Homo sapiens: one gene and its partners. The protein of the gene in region 1 interacts with the protein of each later gene in a pairwise test. Each region holds a gene or a part of one and is shown on either strand. Other genes may lie near its edges.

Evidence for each region.
Region 2: the proteins of PPL (region 1) and TSC22D4 interact in binary tests that used the Homo sapiens proteins (3 or more experiments, as listed by UniProt).
Region 3: the proteins of PPL (region 1) and PLEKHA7 interact in binary tests that used the Homo sapiens proteins (3 or more experiments, as listed by UniProt).

The regions. Positions count from the first base shown.
Region 1 is NC_000016.10:4,882,007-4,888,022, reverse strand, and holds the end of PPL (periplakin), read left to right. Parts: intron 1-795; coding exon 796-888; intron 889-1,975; coding exon 1,976-4,639; 3' UTR 4,640-5,516; downstream 5,517-6,016. UniProt on the Homo sapiens protein: Component of the cornified envelope of keratinocytes. May link the cornified envelope to desmosomes and intermediate filaments. May act as a localization signal in PKB/AKT-mediated signaling.
Region 2 is NC_000007.14:100,464,938-100,471,007, reverse strand, and holds the end of TSC22D4 (TSC22 domain family protein 4), read left to right. Parts: intron 1-3,407; coding exon 3,408-3,456; intron 3,457-3,839; coding exon 3,840-4,049; 3' UTR 4,050-4,489; downstream 4,490-6,070. Other genes in the region: TSC22D4-C7ORF61 (uncharacterized protein LOC122198330), read left to right, coding at 3,408-3,456.
Region 3 is NC_000011.10:17,003,334-17,013,207, reverse strand, and holds part of PLEKHA7 (pleckstrin homology domain-containing family A member 7), read left to right. Parts: intron 1-9,874. UniProt on the Homo sapiens protein: Required for zonula adherens biogenesis and maintenance. Acts via its interaction with CAMSAP3, which anchors microtubules at their minus-ends to zonula adherens, leading to the recruitment of KIFC3 kinesin to the junctional site.

The DNA of each region.
Region 1 (6,016 bases):
CGCTGGCCTCAGAGATGCACACACAACAGGGAAGCCACTGAGAGCCCTCCTGCATGCAAACAGGTTTGGTAAGAGATGAGGAACTTGTTCTAGGGCAGTGACATCAATATGCCTAGAAAGACAGCAAGGCCGGGCGCAGTGGCTCACACCTGTAATCCTAGCACTTTGGGAGGCCGAGGTGGGAGAACTGCTTGAGCCCAGGGGTTGGAGACCAGCCTGGGCAACAAAGCAGGACCCCATATCTACAAAAATATTAGCCAGGCGTGGTGGTGCAAACCTGTAGTCCCAGCTACTTGGGAGGTTGAGGAGGGAGGATCACTTGGGCCCAGGAGTTCAAGGCTGCAGTGAGCTACAATCACACCATGGCACTTCAGTCTGAGTGAAAGAGATTCTGTCTTTAAGAAATAAAAATTTTTGAAAATGCAGCTGAACAGAAGTGTCAGGGTCAGAACCATGGATCTGGGAAGTTCCTGTTTTGCTCACCTCAGTAAGTACAGTGGAGGGCTGATATTAGTCTCCTGTACACACAAGAGAGAACACTGGTGCTCTAAGAGGCAGAAAGACTTGCTCAAAGTCAGTGTGGCCAAGACCCTGGCCTGGATCTTCTGCCTCGAGATCCATTTTTCTCTCCACCGGTGAGGCTACAGTCTAACTCCAGGCAGGAGTGGGCAAGAGCTATGCCTCTACCCCCAAATTCCACACTTCTCAAGAACCACGTCCACGCTGTCTAGCTCTCTGTTGCTTACCCTGTTGACACCTGTTTGTTGACCGCTCTCCTAATCCTCTTCTCTGCAGGAAGCAGCACTTGCCGCCAAGTTCACTGAAGTTTATGCCATCAACAGACAGAGGCTGCAGAATCTGGAGTTTGCTCTGAATCTCCTCAGACAGGTAACTGATCTTAGTAAGAAATTCTACTTCAGGCTGTTCTAACAGGTGACAAATACAGACTCTGTCTTAGAGAAATGGTTTGTGAATTGATGGAAGTGTCCCCTTGCTAACGTTTCTGGGCAGGGCCAATGCAAAGACTGGCCCGAGCCAATGCTTCTACTGACATGAGAACTTATTCAACTCAGTAAACATCTGCTGAAAGTGAATGCTATTTTCAGCTGGGCATGGTGGCTCACGCTTGTAATCCCAGCACTTTGGGAGGCCGAGGCAGGCGGATCACCTGAGGTCAGGAGTTCGAGACCAGCCTGGCCAACATGGTAAAACTCCGTCTCTACTAAAAATACAAAAATTAGCTGGGCGTCGTGGCGCATGCTTGTAATCCCAGCTACTCAGGAGACTGAGGCAGGAGAATTGCTTGAACCCAGGAGGTGGAGGTTGCAGGGAGCTGAGACTGTGCCACTGCACTCCAGCCTGGGCAACAGAGCGAGACTCTGTCTCAGAAAAAAAGAAAGAAACAAAAGAAAGTGAATGTTATTTTCTGAAGTCCATGATGTTGATGACAGCATTGTTTTTTAATAGCAAGACACTGGAAGCAGTTCACTCTTCATCAGCAATGGGCTAAACTGCGGTCTGTCCAGAGAGCGGAAACAATGCTGCTGGTAAATCCTGAAGCAGCACTCTCTGTGCTGAGCTGGAATGAGCTCTGTAAGTGCAGTGAGCAGCAGGAATACCATTTGTGCAGGAGAGATAAACACATGGTACATACTACAGACAGATATTCTTGTGTGAGCACAGATAGCATCTGCAAGGCTGACAGACACGCCCTAGGACGGGGACCAGAGGTGGGAGACCGTGGTTTCATTTTAAACTCTTCCACAGCTCAAAAATGTTTTACCTGATTAAAAAAAACCCCAAACTAGTTGTTTGATCCTTTTTGAAAGTAACCCTAGAACTCTACAACTAACATGAACTGGCACTGAGGGAGTCCCTTGGGGACCACAGGACAGCCACTCTGACCAGGTGGGGACAGGCCCTACATGTGCTGCCAGAGCCTGGCTTTAACCTTGTCTTGTCTTCTCCATCACAGCAGCCGGAAGTAGAAGTGACCCATGAGACCCTGCAAAGGAATAGGCCGGACTCTGGAGTGGAGGAGGCGTGGAAGATCAGGAAGGAACTGGATGAGGAGACTGAGCGGAGGCGGCAGCTGGAGAACGAGGTCAAGAGCACCCAGGAAGAAATCTGGACCTTGAGGAATCAGGGGCCTCAGGAATCGGTGGTGAGGAAGGAGGTGCTCAAGAAGGTGCCGGATCCCGTGCTGGAGGAGAGCTTCCAGCAGCTGCAGCGGACGCTGGCAGAGGAGCAGCACAAGAACCAGCTGCTGCAGGAGGAGCTGGAGGCACTGCAGCTGCAGCTGCGTGCCCTGGAGCAGGAGACCAGAGACGGGGGGCAGGAGTACGTGGTCAAGGAGGTCCTGCGCATCGAGCCTGACAGGGCCCAGGCGGATGAGGTCTTGCAGCTGCGGGAGGAGCTGGAGGCACTGAGGCGGCAGAAGGGCGCCCGGGAGGCAGAGGTGCTCCTCCTGCAGCAGCGTGTGGCCGCCCTGGCTGAAGAGAAGAGCCGGGCGCAGGAGAAGGTCACAGAGAAAGAGGTGGTGAAACTGCAGAATGACCCCCAGCTGGAGGCAGAGTACCAGCAGCTGCAGGAGGACCACCAGCGCCAGGACCAGCTCAGGGAGAAGCAGGAGGAGGAGCTGAGCTTCCTCCAGGACAAGCTCAAGAGGCTAGAGAAGGAGCGGGCCATGGCCGAGGGCAAGATCACCGTCAAGGAGGTGCTCAAGGTGGAGAAGGACGCGGCCACCGAGAGGGAGGTCAGCGATCTCACCCGCCAATATGAGGACGAGGCTGCCAAGGCTCGCGCTAGCCAGAGGGAGAAGACGGAGCTGCTCCGAAAGATATGGGCCTTGGAGGAGGAGAACGCCAAAGTGGTGGTGCAGGAGAAGGTGCGGGAGATCGTGCGGCCAGACCCCAAGGCGGAAAGTGAAGTGGCGAACCTCCGCCTGGAGCTTGTGGAGCAGGAGCGAAAGTACCGGGGTGCCGAGGAGCAGCTCCGGAGCTACCAGAGTGAGCTGGAGGCCCTCAGGAGGCGAGGCCCCCAGGTGGAAGTCAAAGAGGTGACTAAGGAAGTCATTAAGTACAAGACTGACCCTGAGATGGAGAAGGAGCTTCAGCGGCTCAGGGAGGAGATCGTGGACAAGACCAGACTGATCGAAAGGTGTGATTTAGAGATCTACCAGCTGAAAAAGGAAATCCAGGCCCTGAAAGACACCAAACCCCAGGTCCAGACCAAAGAGGTGGTCCAGGAGATCCTCCAATTCCAAGAAGACCCTCAAACCAAGGAGGAGGTGGCGTCTCTGAGGGCAAAGCTCTCAGAGGAGCAGAAGAAACAAGTGGATCTGGAGAGGGAAAGAGCTTCCCAGGAAGAGCAGATCGCCCGGAAAGAGGAGGAGCTCTCGCGGGTGAAGGAAAGGGTGGTGCAGCAGGAGGTGGTCAGGTATGAGGAGGAGCCAGGCCTGCGGGCCGAGGCGAGCGCCTTTGCCGAGAGCATCGATGTGGAGCTGCGGCAGATTGACAAGCTGCGGGCAGAGCTGCGGCGGCTGCAGCGCCGGCGCACCGAGCTTGAGCGGCAGCTGGAGGAGCTAGAGCGCGAGCGGCAGGCCCGCAGGGAGGCCGAGCGCGAGGTACAGCGGTTGCAGCAGCGGCTGGCAGCGCTGGAGCAGGAAGAAGCTGAGGCCCGTGAGAAGGTAACCCATACGCAGAAGGTGGTGCTGCAGCAGGACCCGCAGCAGGCGCGAGAGCATGCCCTGCTCCGACTCCAGCTGGAAGAAGAGCAGCACCGGCGGCAGCTCCTGGAGGGGGAGCTCGAGACCCTCCGGAGGAAACTGGCTGCACTGGAGAAGGCGGAGGTCAAGGAGAAGGTGGTGCTCTCCGAGAGTGTCCAGGTGGAGAAGGGCGACACCGAGCAAGAGATCCAGAGGCTCAAGAGCAGCCTGGAGGAGGAGAGCCGCAGCAAGCGCGAGCTGGACGTCGAGGTGAGCCGGCTGGAAGCCAGGCTTTCGGAGCTGGAATTCCATAACTCCAAGTCATCCAAGGAACTAGACTTTCTGAGGGAAGAGAACCACAAATTACAGCTGGAGAGGCAAAACCTGCAGCTGGAGACCCGAAGGCTCCAATCGGAAATCAACATGGCAGCGACGGAAACACGAGACCTGCGGAACATGACCGTGGCGGACTCTGGGACCAACCATGACTCCAGACTGTGGTCCCTGGAGAGGGAACTGGATGACCTCAAGAGGCTCTCCAAGGACAAAGACCTCGAGATCGACGAGCTGCAGAAGCGCCTGGGCTCCGTGGCCGTCAAGCGGGAGCAGCGGGAGAACCACCTGCGGCGCTCCATCGTAGTCATCCACCCTGACACAGGCCGCGAGCTGTCCCCGGAGGAAGCCCACCGTGCCGGGCTCATTGACTGGAACATGTTCGTGAAACTCAGAAGCCAGGAGTGCGACTGGGAGGAGATCTCAGTGAAGGGTCCCAATGGGGAGTCCTCAGTGATACACGACAGGAAGTCTGGCAAGAAGTTCTCCATCGAAGAGGCCCTGCAGAGTGGCAGGCTGACCCCTGCTCAGTATGACCGCTATGTCAACAAGGATATGTCCATCCAGGAGCTGGCGGTCTTGGTATCTGGGCAGAAGTAGGCACAGCTCTTGCAACTCTTCGTAACGGCAGACGCTGGCCCTCTCCTACGACGCAGTGACCTCCTTGGTGTCGTCCTCTCCCTTGCCCTGGTGCAGGCCAAGCATTTTATACATACCCTCGCTGCCAGGCTGCTCAGAGTCCCGCCCACATATGAGACAGGCACTGGCTGAAGACAGGCAACTCTCGTCCCAACCATCATTCACCCTGAGTGACGTACTTCATCCTCCAATGACTGGACAACTGCGATGCCTTTTCCTCCCTTTTCCTGTACACTCCCAGCAACAAACTCCTCATGATAACTGCACACAATCTGAAAACCACTGAAGGACAAGCCAACCACAGCAGCCAAGCCCACTCCTTGCAGCATGGGTACTGGTGGCACACCAGACAGTGACACTGCCCCACAAAGGCCTGGGCCCGTGGGGGCTGCTGCCTGGCATGACATCTCTCCAGATTTCTGGCTTAAAACCAACTTTCCATCCGAGAAGCCTCCTCAGTAGTTACTCTGCTCATGAGACAGATCTGGGCTCCAAGCCAGGAAAGGTGAACAGAAACCACAAGTGTCCAGCCCTCGGTGCTGGAGTGGACGTTAATTGTCAGCCACCAGACTGTCCCGGCACCTACAGAGAATGTTTCACAGTTCTGGCATTTAAATCCTTTGATAGTGGATTGTGCTGCTGTTAGCCTTAGTTTCAGTGCTTTACAAGTCTCGCTTATTATCTCACTGGTATTTAGGTATACAAAACAGTTGATTATTCACCACGCCAATATCTGGGTCTCTGTATCTCATGTAGAACATAAGAAAATGGGAACTAATAGGGAAATTTATTTATAGCATGAAAATAAACCTGGTGGCTGGAGTCTGCTTGTACGGTCCACATGTTTCTTCTTTTGCATGCAAGGCTTACTCCCCCGCCCCCCCCCCTTGGCTTTCAGCCAAAATGGATATTCCATCTGTAACAGCTCCTACAGGAAGAACTACTTACTTCCACATGGTAGAAAGAAAAGAGTGAGAAAAAATGTTTTGGAAACCTTGAAACAATTTATTGAATTGCTTTATACAAGATTAACAATCTCCACACCACCCCTAACACCAACATAGTCGCTGCACAAAAGCCACAGCCCCTCTCACACCTAAGAAACGGTCACGCCCGGTAAGTGCTCAGAGACTTTCGCTGCGCCAGGGAAACCCCTGCAGCCCCCAGACCCCGAGGCTGCTCTGCCCCACCCTCTGCTGCGGCCTCGCCTGTAGGTCTGCCTTGCCATGGCTGTTCAGTCATTCGCTCTTTCATTACCACAAATAAAGCATAAACAAGGAAAAGAAATCTCAAACTCCCCATCAAAGAAACGTTTCCCTGAGGCAAGAGGCATCACTA
Region 2 (6,070 bases), on another chromosome or scaffold:
GACCCTCAAAGAGGAAGACCAGCTTCTAGGGCTGTCCCCGCCCCAGGACCAAGAGTCCTGCAGGGCTAAGTCTCCCACTGTGCATGTCACACACTGCACAACTAACTCCAGGGGGTGCCGCTCATATTTGAAATCACAGTCAATGCTTGAAGTCACGACAGTTTTCCAGAAGATGGCATTAAGGATCTCGAAGAAGGGGGCATTTTCTAATCCATACAAACTTGCTTTTGGGCTTGTGGTGGAGGTCGATCCTGTCTCAGCAGCCCCTACTTTCCTCCCCCGGACCCTGTCAAAGAATTCTAGCACAGTGCCCACAACCCCTCGCTTTGGGGTCCTAAAGGGAAGGGCCTGCATTGCCAGAGCCCTGGTCCCTTGAAGTGTGTGTTAGAATGTTCCAATAGAGGCCTGGCACAGTGACTCACACCTGTAATCCCAGGACTGAGATGGGAGGCTGAGGTGGGTGGATCATGAGGTCAGGAGTTCAAGACCAGCCTGGCCAACATGGTGAAACCCCATTTTGCCGGAGGCTCCCCGGCAAAAATACAAAAATTAGCTGGGCATGGTGGCTCATGCCTGTAATCTCAGCTACTCTGGAGGCTGAGGCAGGAGAATCACTTGAACCCAGAGGTGGAGGTTCCAATGAGGGAAAATCCCGCCATTGCACTCCAGCCTGGGCAACAAGAGCAAAAACTCCCAGGCGCTAGACAAACAGAAGACAGTCACCTGTCGGCTAACAAACGTTTATTGCTGTATTATTCCTTTATCTCTGGTGAGAATGAACACCTTACTTGACATCTTTACCCCTGAGTCTCTGCCCAGCAGGGCCCATGTTCCTATCCCTGTGTATCCAACCCCTTTGGTCTCTGTGAGTGTTTAATGGGGTGGTGGCAGTATTGGGCTTTCTGTGGTGGCTCCATCTCCACCCAGGTGTTGCTGATTGAAATAGCTCGAAAATTACTTTGACCCTCCTGCTGGCAGACCCACCTCCACCCTTCAACTTCTCCTCTCCCACCACCCCAAGAGTCCCAGATGCCCTTCCCCCACCCACCCCATCCTGCTCGCTCAGGCCTAGTCACCTCCTTAGTTGCTCCACCTGTCAGCGCCTTCTGCACCCAGAGCTGGGATGAGAAATGGAAAATTCCCAGCTCCCTTGTGCTCCCTTCCTGGCTGCAGGACCTTATCCAGGGGTCACCTTGAATTGAGTGCTGATCCCCCTGCAGGAAAGCAAGTCTGAGCTGACAGCCAGGAGGGAGGGCTTACAAGGGAGTCCAGGGATGTGGGCTGCAGCGCCTTGAGGCCCCTGCTCCAAGGGGGGCCCAGCTGGGGGCTGGAGGGCAGGACTGGGGATCCCGCCACAGCGCCAGAGTGCAGGGGTGCAAGGGTGGGTCGGGAGCCTCAGGGCAAGAGCCTGGGGCCTGAGGGGTGGGAGAGGGAGCCTTGGAGGATGAGGTCAGCACAAGGGCCTGCGCAGGTGGGGCCTGAGAGTGGGGCTTGAGGGAGAGCCAGGTTCTGGGACCAGGAGCCCAACGTCGTGGAGCCAGCCTGGAGCCCGGCCCTGGGGGCTGTTGAGCCAGGCCTGAGTCGCCCTCTGGTGGCCACTTCCCAGACTGCAGCCAGACCCTGTCACCCCAGACTCCCAGCCCTCTTCCAAGCCCTGTTGCTCCTCTTCCCAGTGTCCCTTCTCCAAGCTCACTTCCCTTCCTCTCCTCAAACCCTCGCTTCCTCTGAGACCCCAGACCCAGGTCCCAGGCCCATAGGCGATTTTTTTTTTTTTTTTTTTAAGACAGAGTTTTGCTCTTGTTGTCCAGGCTGGAATTCAGTGGCACGATCTCGGCTCACTGCAACCTCCGCCTCCCAGGTTCAAGCGATTCTCCTGCCTCAGCCTCCAGAGTAGCTAGGATTACAGGCACCCCCCACCATGCCCAGCTAATTTTTTGTACTTTTAGTAGAGCCAGGGTTTCACCATGTTGGCCAGGCTGGTCTCAAACTTCTGACCTCAGGTGATCCACTCGCCTCAGCCTCCCAAAGTGCTGGGATTACAAGCGTGAGCCACCACACCTGGCTTTTTTTTGAGACAAGATCTCACTCTGTCGTCCAGGCTGGAGTGCAGTAGCACGATCTCGGCTCACTGCAACCTCCACCTCCTGGGTTCAAGCGATTCTCCTGCCTCAGCCTCCTGAGTAGCTGGAATTGCTGGCACCCTCCACCACGCCTGGCTAATTTTTGTATTTTCAGTAGAGATGGGGTTTCTCCATGTTGGCCAGGCTGGTCTCAAACTCCTGACCTCAAGTGATACACCCACCTTGGCCTCCCAAAGTGCTGGGATTACAGGTGTGAGCCACCACGCCTGGCCTTTACGCTGTATTCATCTTCTAGGGCTTTGGGCTCAGTTTCTGTTGCCATGGTAACCTTTCCCATTTTTGGTCTTCTCTGGAGACTCAGGGACCCTCTGGCCAGATCCCAGGGGTCACCCATGATGTGAGCCTTGTGGGGTTTTTTGGTGGGAGAGCGCTCATGATCTATGGAAGACCACGAGCACGTCAGAACGCCCCCTACCCCAGCCACCTCCACCCTCTTTCCCAAGGCCTTGAGTGACGGAGGGGACAGAATGGGGTCGGAGGTGGCGAGGGGCCTCCGAAGGCCAGCCCCTTCCTCTCCCTTCACACCCTTCACTCCCCGCTCAGACCCAGGCTTCTGCCCCACGCCCCTCCCCTGGCCCAGCCACCAGCTGACTTCCTCGGCCGGCCCCCTCCCCTCCACTCTGGGATTGGTGCCAGGGTGAGAAGGGGACACTGGCACTGACCGTGTCTGGGAATTCCCGCCCACCGAGGAGCTGAAAGGAGGGGGGGTCCCCGTGTCCCCAAGGAGCCAATAGCAGCCAGGCCTTGCCCTTGGGGGGGTGGTGTATATCTTTCAGGCCAGCACCCCCGAGGCACTGTCTCCTCTCTGCCTGCCTGGCACCAGCCAGACCCTGCTCTGCCCGGGGGGCTCTGAGCCCCCCAGGCATTCCCTTCACTGCATCCCTCTCCATTGGGGGGGTGTCTAAGGACCCTTTCCCCTTGGGCATGGCCCAGCCAGGGGTCTCTGTCAAGTCCCTGGTGTCGTCTTATGAGACCCGAGTGGTGGGGATGGCTCCGGGGCTGCCCCGAAAAAGGGGCTGTGCCTCTTCCCCTTGCTCTCCCCGGGGTGCATCCCCCATCCGAGGGACATCTGGGCCCCCGCCCCACCGGGGCCTGGGAGGCCCTGGGCAGCGGCCTTCAACCCGCAGGGGGATGGACAAAACCCTCCTCTCCCTCATTCTCTACTGTCACAGGTACAGGGGGGTGTGGGCGGGAGGCTGTGGTCCAAGAAACCAGCACCTGGGAAGGCTTCTCCTCTCCTCCCCTCACCTTCCTGTGTCTCTCCAGTGGCTCCGGAAGCCTGGTTGGCATTGACAACAAAATCGAGCAAGCCATGGTAAGAGAAGCCATCTTGGTCCCAGGAGGTCCTGGCCCCCTTAAGCCATCCCTCTGCCCCAGCCCTGTCCTCTTCCTTACCAGGGAACACCAACTCCCAGCTCCTCCGTCCCTCTCCCTGCTGGGCTGCTGGGCATCCTCTGCCCCCTCCTGCCACCACCTCCACCCTTGACTTTGCCCAGCCTCTAGTCTGGCTACTGGTCCCCATCTCTGTCTTTGAGCCCTGACTCTGCCTCTGTCCCTCGTCCTTTTCCCCTGTCCCTTCCCTGCTTTGTCCCTCATCCTCTGGACACTGGGGACTGTCTCCCACCCCAGCCCTCAAGGCACTGGGCAGGGGATGAGGCACCCACCCCGTTGACGCTGTGCCTGTCCCGGGGCCCCCAGGACTTGGTGAAGTCCCACCTCATGTTTGCGGTCCGGGAGGAGGTGGAGGTGCTGAAGGAGCAGATCCGGGAATTGGCGGAGCGGAACGCTGCGCTGGAGCAGGAGAATGGGCTGCTGCGCGCCCTGGCCAGCCCGGAGCAGCTGGCTCAGCTGCCCTCCTCGGGGGTCCCACGGCTTGGGCCCCCTGCGCCCAATGGGCCCTCCGTCTGAGCCTCCCTTCCCTTACAATGTGCCTTTGGGGCTGCCCGGCCTTGCGTCAGCCGCCTGCCCCCTCTTCCTATGCAGCTTTAATGTCCCCGTGTCCCCGGGGTGGGAGTTCAAGGCTCAGTAATGGCCTGGTCCCCCGGCCCCTGCCCCATCTCCTCATCATCCCCAGCCTTGATGGAGGAGGGAGGGCTTCAGGACGGGGCGTCAGAGGGAGCCCCCTCTGGGAGGGAACCAACCCCCACCCTCCCTCCTGGGACCCCCCAGCAGTAGACGGCTTGGGGGAGTCGGAGGCTCCCCGGCAGACACCCCACCCCCATCTTGTTCCCTTGAGGTGCCTCCTCTCCTCTGCCCAGGGGAGGGAGTGTGGACAGTATCTGGAAGTTCTGGGATTCAGGTTGTTATTAAAATAATAATAATAATTAAAAACTCTGAAGAAACTTGAATTTGGAGGTTGACATCTCGTTCGTTGCTTGTGTTCAGACTCAGGGGTCGCGCCTGCCATTTAGGGCTCCCCTGAGATCTTTTGCAGACTGGGGAGGTTTAAAGCGTGGGAGACGGAGGAATTGAGACAGAGGCTGGAGAAGGGAGCCAGCGGTTCGGGTCCTGGGAAGGGGCAAGTGAGGATTGGGGGTGGGGGGGCGTCTGCCCACGTGCTGGGCGGGGGGCTGGGAAACAATAAGGTCTTTGGTGGTTGCCCAAGATCCACCCCTGGCTTCCCAGTGTGTCCCCTCTGCGGGCTGGATCCGGGTGGCTGCTTGGGGGCGGGGCGGGGGGCCCTGAATGGGCCCCTTGTCTCGGGGCTGGGTGTGGGCCAGGCTCCCCGGGCACACGGTGCCCTTGCCAGGCCTGGCCAGCCGCCGTGGCTCCCACCCCCGGCCAGCTGAGGACGGGCCCTGTGGGTGAGCTGGCCCCTCCCTGGCAGCCTGGGCTCCGGTCCCAGGCGGAAGAGTCAGCAGCAATGGAGAAGGACCCCATCTAGTGGGGAAGAGGCGAGAGCTGCAGCTGTAGCCCCAGGAGGCCCCTAGCCCCGGGATCCCCTGGCCCCAGCAGCCTCCAAGGAGGCTGACCTGTCTTGGAGTGCCTGACTCTCTGCCTCCTTAGGTTTCCCTAGGTTCATAACCTTGGGCAACTTCTTTGGTTTTTCTTTTTTTTTTTTTCATTTCTCCTTTCTTTTTTTGAGACAGGGTATTGCTCTGATGCCCAGAGTGCAGTGGCACAATCACAGCTCCCTGCAGCCTCCACGTTCCTGGCTCAAGTGATCCTCCCGCCTTGGCCTCCCTGAACTATAGGTGTGCGCCACCACGTTCAGCTAATTTTCTTTATTTTTGTAGAGATGGGGCCTTGCTATGTTGCACAGGCTGGAGTGCAGTGGTGTGATCATAGATCACTGCAGTCTTCAACTCCTGGGCTCAAGTGATCCTCCCACTTCAGCCTCCTAAGTAGCTGGGACTACAGGCATGTGGCACTATGCCCAGCTAGAGTCGAAGTTTCGCTCTTGTCACCCAGTCTGGAATGCAGTGGTGAGATCTCAGCTTACTGCAACCTCCACCTCTCAGGTTCAAGCGATTTCCATGCCTCAGCCTCCTGAGTAGCTGGAACTACACGTGTGCACCACCACACCCAGCTAATTTTTTTTTTTTTTCGTATTTTTAGTAGAGAAGGGGTTTCACCACTTTGGTCAGGCTGGTCTCAAACTCCTGAACTCAAGTAATCTGCCTACCTCAGCCTCCCAAAGTGCTGGGATTACAGGCATGAGCCACTGCGCCTAGCCTAAATTTTTTGGTAGAGACCATCTCGCTATATGGCCCAGGCTGATCTCAAACTGCTGGCTTCAAGTAATCCTCCCACCTTGGCGTCCCAAAGTTCTGGGATTACAGGTGTGAGCTACCACACCTGGCTCTCTTAAGTTTTTTCCTTCCTTGCTTCCTTCCTTCCTTCCTTCCCTCCTTCCTTTTTTGTCTTTCTTTTTTGTTTTTTTCTTTCCTTCTTTTCTTTCTTTTGTTCTTTTCCTTCTTTCTTCTTTC
Region 3 (9,874 bases), on another chromosome or scaffold:
TACAGGCTTTGCTTTCCCACTCCGGCGGGAGTCTGTGTTGCAGCGTGTTTCCCTCTGCCTGCTGAGCTCCGGGAGGCCAGACACTGCCTTTGACCCCTTGCCCCAGTGCCGGACAGCAAGTAGGCACTCGGTAAATGTTTGTTCACTGAATGAATCAGCTCGCCAAAGGTCTGGACGGTGGTCTGACTAGTACTGACTGGGTGTACCTCGGCGACTGTGAGTCAGAACTACTACTGTTAGGAATAAAGCAGCCTATTTCAAGAAAACCCCGGAACCTCCTTTTCTGGTTTGGGTTCTTGCATAATAGTTGAAAATACTGATGGGTGAGATTTACAGACCTAAGGACTAGGGCCTTGCTGCGGTTCTATTGCCCTGCCTCATATGTGTGTATGTGAAGTTGGGGAGTTGGCTGGGGCCATCAGAGTCTTGCTGTCAGTGGGCCTCTCTGGCTCATAACTGCATCAGTTGATGTTATTACAATTTTCCTGTGTGCCACACGTTCACACGTTGTTCTAGGCATTGGGAACAAAAAACAGAAAAGTTCTAGGTGCTCATGGAGCTTGCAATCTAATAGGAGAGGGAAGGGAGTAGAAAATAAGTAAAAAACACAAATAATAATATCAGATCGTGGTTACTACTGTGCAGAAAGTTAAAATAAGGTGATGTGACATGGAGTGACTGGGTGGCTTGGTTGTACTGGGAGATCGGGATGGTGTTTCTGAATAGGCAACATTTAAAGTAAAATTTGAATGACAAGAAGGAGACATCATGTGATGATGAGTTGGCAAAGCATTTCGGGAAGAGCGAACAGCCAGGGCAAGGGCTTAAGGCAGAAAAGAGCTTGGAGTTTAAGGAGCAGGAAGGCTGGAATGTGGTGCACAAGGGAGAAAGTGGCATGAGGAGAGGTCACAGGTAGGAGAAAGGTAAATGCCGCAAAGCTTTGTGAGCCGGGGTGAGGAATTTTCATACTTTATTCTAAGCCCAGTGAAACGTCATTGGAGGGTTTTAAGCAGGGAAATGGCATGATTTGGTGTGTGTTTTTAGAACGATCACTGTGAGGAGATTGGATTGTAGGTGGCCACTGCAGGGGGAGGCAGGAGAGCAGCTGAGGCTGTTGCCCTCTTCCAGGCAGGAGTTAGAAGTGGCTTGCCTGAGGGTGGTAGCACAGTAGACAGGGAGTAGTGGTCACATTCAGGCTGTGTTTAGGAAATAGGCTCTTCACACCTTCATGATGGACTGAATAGTCTGTGGGAGAAAGAGAAGAGGCAAAGATGACTCCTCAGGGCTTGGGCACCTGAGTGGATAGCATTCATATCGTTGAGATGGGAAGAGCCGGTTTGGGGTGGAGGAGAATCATGAGATCTTGTTTTGCCATCTTACATTTGAGATATGAGTATGTCAGATAGTGTGATCTGAAGCTTGGTGGGGAGAGAGGACAGAAGAGACCCATTGGGTATAATAGATGTTATTCAAGGCCATGGGATTAGATGAAATCCCCTAGGAAGAGAGTACAGACAGAAGAGAGATGTTCTGAGGCTTTGGATGGTCAAAGCAGTGTTTAGAGGGGTGAGAGGTGAAGCCAGCAAGGAGACTGAGAAGGACTGAGAAGGTAGGAGAAACCCCAGGAGAATGCATGGTCACAGAAGCCTTAAAGGACAAAATCTGACTGGAGTAGGTGGAAGATAAAACACGGGGTGAAGACAGGGAGTCAGTTAGGCAAATCTTCCAGGTAGTTTTGTTGCAAAGTGGAGTTGAGACATTAGCCGGTAATTGGAGAGGATGTGGGTTTGAGGGAGGGTTCTTTTTTTTGGTGGGAGATTGTACAGCATGTTTGTTTTGATGGGAATGATCCCACTGAGAGGAAGAAGTCGATGCTGCAGTAAAGAGACGGGGCAGTTGCTGGAGCAGTGTTTCTAAGAAGGTGAGAGGGATGGGATCCATGGCCTGCATCTCACTAGCGTCACCCAGGGGCAGGGCCCATCATTCATTTGGCGGGAGGAAGGGCTGCAAGTGTCCCAAAGTACCAGGTGCAGCCTTGGGCTGGGTGTGTGAGGCCGCGTGTGGGACTCTGGAGGCTGGAGCACAGCCTTCCACACCTTTGCTGACTCTTCCATGGTAACTTGTCTGTGAGGTCCCTAATGATTTTCCTACAGTGAGCTCCTGTGCCCCCAGGGCCTTGGCTGACTCCTCCCAGGCCTAGAAAAAGCAATGTGTGACAGTGTTCCCTACCCTCAAAGGCAGGGCCCTGTGGCAGGTGATTGTACTTCTGACGTCCTTCTGTGACAATTTTTTGAGAGACTTAAGGGTTTTGGGAGTAATTGTTCTCTCCCTCATCCCCCGCCCCCCACATGAAAAATGTTTTACTGTTGTCTGATTTCTTAGCTTTGCCGTGAGCATTTCTGAATGTTTGATTTTTGTGTTGAGGGCAGGAGCCTCCTCTAATCTGGCTCATAAAGTGAGAGCGACAAAGCATTGACATGGCTGATTTTATTTTTCCTAATGGCTCCTTGCACAGGAAAGTTGTGTGAGGTTTTACAGGATGTATTCAGTTGCTCCTCATATTTAGCAGATTAAAACATTTTAATTTTTGAAAAAATTTTAAGAAACAGAATCTTCCTCTGTCTCCTAGTCTGGAGTGCAGTGGTGCAATCATAGCTCACTGCAGCCTTGAACTCCTGGGGCCAAGTGATCCTCTCACTTCAGCCTCCCAAGTAGCTGGAACTACAAATGCAGGCCACCATGCCTGGCCAGCAAATGTTTTAATACTCTCCAGAGTCCATTTCTTTTCTTTCTTTTCTTTTTCTTTCTTTTTTTTTTTAAAGACAGCTTTGCTCTGTCGCCCAGGCTGGAGTGCAGTGGCACGATCTCAGCTCACTGCAACCTCTGCCTCTTGGGTTCAAGTGATTCTCATGCCTCGGCCACCCCCTAAGTAGCTGGGACTACAGGTGTGCACAACCATGACTGGCTAATTTTTGCATTTTTAGTAGAGACAGGGTTTCACCATGTTGGCCAGGCTGGTCTCAAACTCCTGACCTGAAGTGATCCGCCTGCCTCAGCCTCCCAAAGTGCTCGGATTACAGGCATGAGCCACTGTGCCTGGCCTCGGAGTCCATTTCTTGAAGCAGAAAAGCTTGAGGTTAGGCAGGTGAATTTTTGTTTTGATTTCTGCACTTTTTGTTCAATTTTGCATTAATGAGGGACAAAATGTATAAGAAATCTACTGTTGGTTCTCCCAGTTCTAGACTAAGTGATGTTGATAACCCCTTTAAAAAGATTTTTTGGCTGGGTATAGTGGCTCATGCCTGCAATTCCACACTTTGGGAGGCGGAGGCGAGGGGATCACTTGAGGCCAGGAGTTCAAGATCAGCCTGGGCAACACGGAGAGGCCTCATCTGTACAAAAAATGAAAAAATTAATGGTGGTATGCTCCTGTAATCCTAGCAACTTGAGAGGCTTAAGTGTGAGGATTGCTTGAGCCCAGGAGTCTGAGTTTACCATGAGCTATGATTGTGATACTGTACTCCAGCCTGGATGACAGAGTGAGACCCTGTCTGTAAATAAATAAATAAATAAATAAATAAAACGAAGACTTTTTGTACTCTAGCACTTCTCTACTATGAATCCCTTAGCTGGGTAGCAAGGTATAATAGTAATTGTGATAATAGTGTCATTAACAGAAGTAGCAATAATAGTAGTAATAATTATATAACAGCCTAATCTTTTTGGGTCTTTGAAAAATGCTAGGAACTGTTCTGTAACTGTCATTGATTTAATTCTCACAATAGTTTGATGAGGTAGGAACTACTACTAGTTTCGTTTTACAGACATAGAATCTTGCCGTAATCCTGGACATTCCTATAGCAGATGGTTTTTTTTCTTGTGTCTTTTCTTATTTGATCCTTATAGCAGCCCCTGGAGGCAGGAGGGGAAGAATCATCCCCATTCTTCAGATGATGAAACTCAGGTCCATGAAGGTTCAATGATTTTGCTGAAGTGTTAGAGCTGGGACTGGAACATAGGTCTTTGGTCCCTCATGTGATAGCCACAGTAGTAGTGGTAGCTCCTACCCCAGGCCATGCATCTTGAAGGAGATGAATGCCCATATGCCATTGCTCTGAGTTAGGCTTCCCCAAGGCTTATGGGGCCAGACTCCATCTTTGCTTTTTCTGGGGATTGAGGTACTTTGGAAGGGCAGTACCCCCTGGTCTCCTATGTTGATTAGGGGTGGTACATGTCTCTGATTAGTAAGAAATTGAAGACATTGATTATTAGTAAATACAATTTGGCAGACACAGCTTTTTCAAACATGGGACCTATGAGGGAGAAGTTTCTAGAAGAGGCCATGGGAGTTAGAGTATTACACTGGGCTGCTCTTCAGGGGTTTCATGGAACCTTGTGAATTCCGTTCCCCCTACAGCAGGCATTAAATAGGTCATGAGGCAATGAGGAGATGGCAGAGAAGAGGGGCTCAGCCACCTTGCCTGTGCCAAGGCTGTTCCTTGAAGGCAGGCATCTTATTCCCCACTTCTGTGACTTAGGCACCCAGCCCAGGGCTGGGAGCTGAGTAGGCACTTGGCATCTCTTGAGGAATCAGTGTTTTAAAGAGACCCAATGAGTTTTCTAGGTATTCCAGGTCTTGGAAAACTCCTTACTGGGAAGGAGATTGGGGTGGAGGAGAATAAGCAAGGTGAGAGAAGCTCAACAGCCAGGAACAGGCCTGTCAAGGCTGGTGCCTAGACCCAGGCTTCTTGGATACAGTCGCTTGCTGTTGAGAACAATGCTCAAAGCAGGAAGCTGGCTGGTGGAGGCTCAAACGGCCTCCTCTGCGTCTTCATTTCATATCCTTATTGCTCTGCATCTGGGACTGGGATACCTGTTGGCTACTGGACTAGGCTGTCTTCCTTCCCTGGCTGCTGGGCCCTTGGCATCATCTGTGACTTGGCACAAGGGTGCTGGCAGGAACCAGCTGATTGCACAAGACCCTTTCTAGCTTCAGGTTTCTCAGTTTTAGCTTTGGGGTTGTGTGGAGCCACCCTGTGTAGGTACTTTCTTCTTGTGGGTGCCTGTCCCCAAGTGAGGACAGCTAGACTCTGGGAAAGACATTTCTGAGGCTTGGAGTAAGGCTAACTTTCCCCTCCCCTAGGACCTGAAGCAGGTCCTAGGGGCAGGACTGGCTACATAATTTGCAGAGCCTCAGTGTAAAATGAAAATGCAAGGCTCCTTATTGAAAAAGAAGGAAAAAGTATTAGCTTGGTGCAAATGTAATTGCGGTTAGTGCTATTACTTTTAATGGTAAAAACTGCAATTACTTTTGCACCAACTGAATATCTTTAGGCCGGGCGTGGTGGTTCACACCCAGTAATCCCAGCACTTTGAATGGCCAAAGCAGGAGGATTGCTTGGGCTCAGGAATTTGAGACTAGCCTGGGCAACATGGTAAAACCCTATCTTTACAAAAAATACAAAACTTAGCCGGGTGTGATGGTGCATGGCCATAGTCCCAGCTATTAGGGAGGCTGAGGTGGGAGGATCACTTGAGCTTGGGAAGCGGAGGTTGCCGTGAACTGAGCTCACGCCACTGCACTCCAGCCTGGGCGACAGAATGAGACTCTGTCTCAAAAAAAAAAAAAAAAAGCATCTTTAGAGATCCTAAAATGTAAAATTTTGTTCTTCTGTAGTTTTTCCCTTGACTTGTCATTTAAAAAAAAATAAAATTGCTATTTATGGGCATGGTGGCGAGTGCCTGTAATCCCAGCTACTTGGGAGGCTGAGCCAGGAGGAACGCTTGAACCCAGGAGGTGAAGGTTGCGGTGAGCCAAGATTGCACCATTGCACTCCAGCCTAGGCAACAAGAGTAAAACTCTGTCTCAAAAAAAAAATTTTTTTTTCTATTTAATGTAATTCTACATAAAGAAAAATTAAGTTTAAATTATTAGCATAAATTTTATAGTTATTTCTATATTGTAGAATATAATGTTTTAAATGTGAATATCAGTGCATTTACCTCATATGCTAGGAGTTGCCACCACCATGCCCCACTCCAAGACACCATAGAGCACAAGCACCTGTATCCATGCCCCCCTGGGCAGCAGGGAGGAGCAGGGAGCCCAGGCAGGGCTTAGGGCTCCAGGAGGCTGGGAGTGGGCAGTTAAGAACCTGGTCCTCCGAGGCAGGGAGTGGGGACCAGGCATGAGTCCTTCAGAAGGTTACCTCTGGAGATAATGCCAAGTATCAAGGGTGTGTGTTTTGTATTCAGCAACCCATTTTTTAGTCTGAAATCAAAGGGAGTTGGAGAGTGAAGGATGAACCAAATGTGACAGATGTTCAGTTGGGGATTTTGTAGACACCAGGCCTAGAAGGCCCTTAGGAAAGCCAGTGAATACTGGACAGCCCAGGAGGCTGCCCTTAATTATGACCTCACCCAACCGACAGTCTTCTGGGCCACCCCTAGGAAGGAGTCTGTCCTGTCTTCTATATTTTCCTCCCTAGATAAATGTTGAACTTCATGGCAGTGAAATTTATCTTGTAGAATGTCAAACCTATTGATTCACTTATATATCATCTTCCTTTTTTTTTTTTTTTGAGACTGAGTCTTGCTGTGTCACCCAGGCTGGAGTGCAGTGGCGGCATCTCGGCTCACTGCACCTCTGCTTCCCGGGTTCAAGCGATTCTTCCACCTCAGCCTCCTGAGTAGCTGGGACTACAGGCATGCGCCACCATGCCTGGCTATTTTTTTGTATTTTTAGTACAGATGGGGTTTCACCATGTTAGCCAAGCTGGCCTTGAACTCCTAACCTCAGGCAATCCGCCTGCCTTGGCCTCCCAGAGTGCTAGGATTACAGGTGTGAGCCACCGTGCCTGGACGTTTTTTTTTTTTTTTTAGATGGAGTTTCATTCTTGTTGCCCAGGCTGGAGTGCAGTGGTGTGATCTCGGCTCACTGCAACCTCCGCTTCCCTTGTAGCTGGTGTTACAGGCGCCCACCACCATGCCCGGGTAATTTAGTAGAGACGGGGTTTCACATGTTGGTCAGGCTGGTCTTGAACTCCTGACCTCAGGCTGTCCACCCGCCTTGGCTTCCTAAAGTGCTGGGATTACAGGCATGAGCCACCATGCCCAGCCTTATTTGTCATCCTTCTTATTGAGATGTTGCTGGGAACAGCAGTCCCAGAAACTTTATTTCAAACCTGGGGGTAATAGTCCCACAAAGAATTTCTGGGAAACTAGCAGCTTACATATATACTAAAATAGAAATTCTGAACCCCCTCATTGAAGGTTAAGAAAGGTTTTCCCAGCTTGGCAAGTTTTGGCAGAATCCCATGCTTTATATTTCACTTCCTGGTTGCATTTTCAAGGGTAAAAACTGGTTCATGGATTTAAACGTTAGGTTCTGTGGGAAAGGAAAAACAGTGAGTGTTGTTTAGAAAGCGAAAGGAAGGATTAGGAGCCATGATTTATACCACATCTCCAAAAAGAAACTTCTTTAAGGAAACGTCTTTAAGAAAAATGGTTGCAAGTTGCTTTTTAAGGCTCTTTACCCATGAGAGGAGTGTGTTTTAGAGATAGGACAGATGCTGGGTTGGGAAGAGGTGTTTTCATGTGATGAGGGTGGGTGTAGGTTTCTTGTGCCTTGATGGCACCCTCTCCATTCTCTCTCTCTCTCTTTCTTTTTTTGTTTTGAGACAGAGTTTTGCTCTGTCACCTAGGCTAGACTGCAGTGGCATGATCTCAGCTCACTGCAACCTCTGCCTCCTGGGTTCAAGCAATTCTCTTGCCTCAGCCTCCTGGGTAGCTGGGATTACAGACACCCACCACCACGCCTGGCTAATTTTTGTATCTTTAGTAGAGACGGGGTTTCACCATGTTGGCCAGGCTGGTCTCAAACTCCTGACCTCAAGTAATCTGCCCACCTTGGCCTCCTGGAAGTGCTGGGATTACAGGCGTGGGCCACCGGGCCCAGCCTCCATTCTCTTTTGATGTCTATGGGAGTAAATTTGGTGCTTCCTAAATTGAGAACTTTGGAAAAAAATTAAGACAGCACTTTAAACAGAAACGTGTGCAGGGGCAGGGAGATGCCAGTTTACCCCCCCCGTTAAGTCTGAGGTGACAGAGGGCTGTAGGAAGACTGCTTGTTGGCTTTTCAGCCTCAATATGTGGAATATTTGGCAATTCAGTGAGGTACCTGCTCTTGTTTTCTATCTTCAGAGGACAGCACAGGTTTGAATCTCTTTGCTCAGTGTAAGACAGCATCATCTCAGCAAACTGGCAGGTATCTTAAGTAAATATTGGCAGAGGGAAAAACACGGAGGAATATGGTTGTATTTGCCTGTTGTTTTTAAATGGCTGTCAAAACATTTGCTTTTCAATTTTCTGAAATGAGAAATATTTTGAGTTAATGTTTTATCATTTACAGAGTATTTCACGAACATTCTCTGGTTTGTCCCATAATTATTGCATTTTTTTAGTGCGGGAATTTGGGCTCAGAGGGGTAAAGTGACTTCTCTAAAGTTGTATACTGGGCTGGGCATGGTGACTCATGCTTGTAATCCCAGCACTTTGGGAGGCCGAGGTGGGCAGATCACCTGAGGTCAGAAGTTTAAGACAAGCTTGGCCAATGTGGTGAAACCTCATCTCTACTAAAAATACAAAAATTAGCTGGGTATGGTGGTGCGTGCCTGTAATCCCAGCTACTCGGGAGGCTGAGGTAGGAGAATCACTTGAACCCAGGAGGCAGAGGTTACAGTGAACTGAGATTGCGCCATTGCACTCCAGCCTGGGCGACAAGAGTGAAACAGTGTCTTAAAAAAAAAAAAGAAAAAGAAAAAGGAAAAAAAAGGTGTATACTGCATTAGCTCAGCTTCTTCAAAGTTCAAGGGAGAGGCCTGGACATATTGTTCCTCATATCCAGGCTTCTCAGACATTTCAGCCATAGGTCTAATGGCAGAACAGAATGAAGGCCAACTCACCTAGGAGACTGGATGCAGGAAGTGCCATTAAATGTTGGTTCTGTCCAAAAACTCATTGACAGACTAAAATTAATTGAGACTTTACCCTCAATTTAATTTATTATGTAATCCTTTCTTATATCTTCCTTTCAAATCAATTCTTCGGCCAGATGCATCATGTTTATTGCTTTGTGTTCTAAATAGAAATGTGTACCGGCAGAGGAATGCGAGTTCCCCCTGTTCAGTCTTAGGTGACAGAGGAGTGCGGAGAGACTCCTTGTTGGCTTTTCAGCCTCTCTGGGCCCTACATCTCCAAACAGGATGTACAGGAGGACTTAAGGAAAGTATCAGCAGTTGTGGTAACCTTGGATTGTCTTTTGCTTGTACTGAGTTGTGAGTTGTGCCGGATCACTTCTCTGTCTCATCCAGCCCTCTTCAGGATACTGGCCTGGGCAGCAGGGTTGGTTTTTGTTGAAGCCCAAAGCACAGCTAGGCAACTTCATCATGCAGAAAAATGTATGAAAAGGGCTTTTGATGTGGGTGACAGCATGTGTAAAGAGACGGTATCCAAGTGTGTGGACTTTGGAGTCAGACTACCTAGACTCTAATTCACCTCCACCACATACAGCTCCCTGACCTTGGCAGGTTACCTGCTCTCTTTAAGCCTCACTTCCTCACCAGTAAAATGGGGTTAAATGTGAGGATTATGTGAGTTAATTGATGGATGGAAAGGGTTTAGCAAGTAGTAGTGCCACGTTTACTGGCACATTGTAAATGCCCAATAAATGTGAGCTCCTCTTCTGTACATCCACACAGCTATGGGGCAGGGTGAAGACATGACTTCTGAGTCCTAATTGCATTCATTGGCTGCAGAAGTCTGGTGCCCTTGAACTAGGATTGCCGGAGTCAGGGGCATGCAAACTGTAGAACTC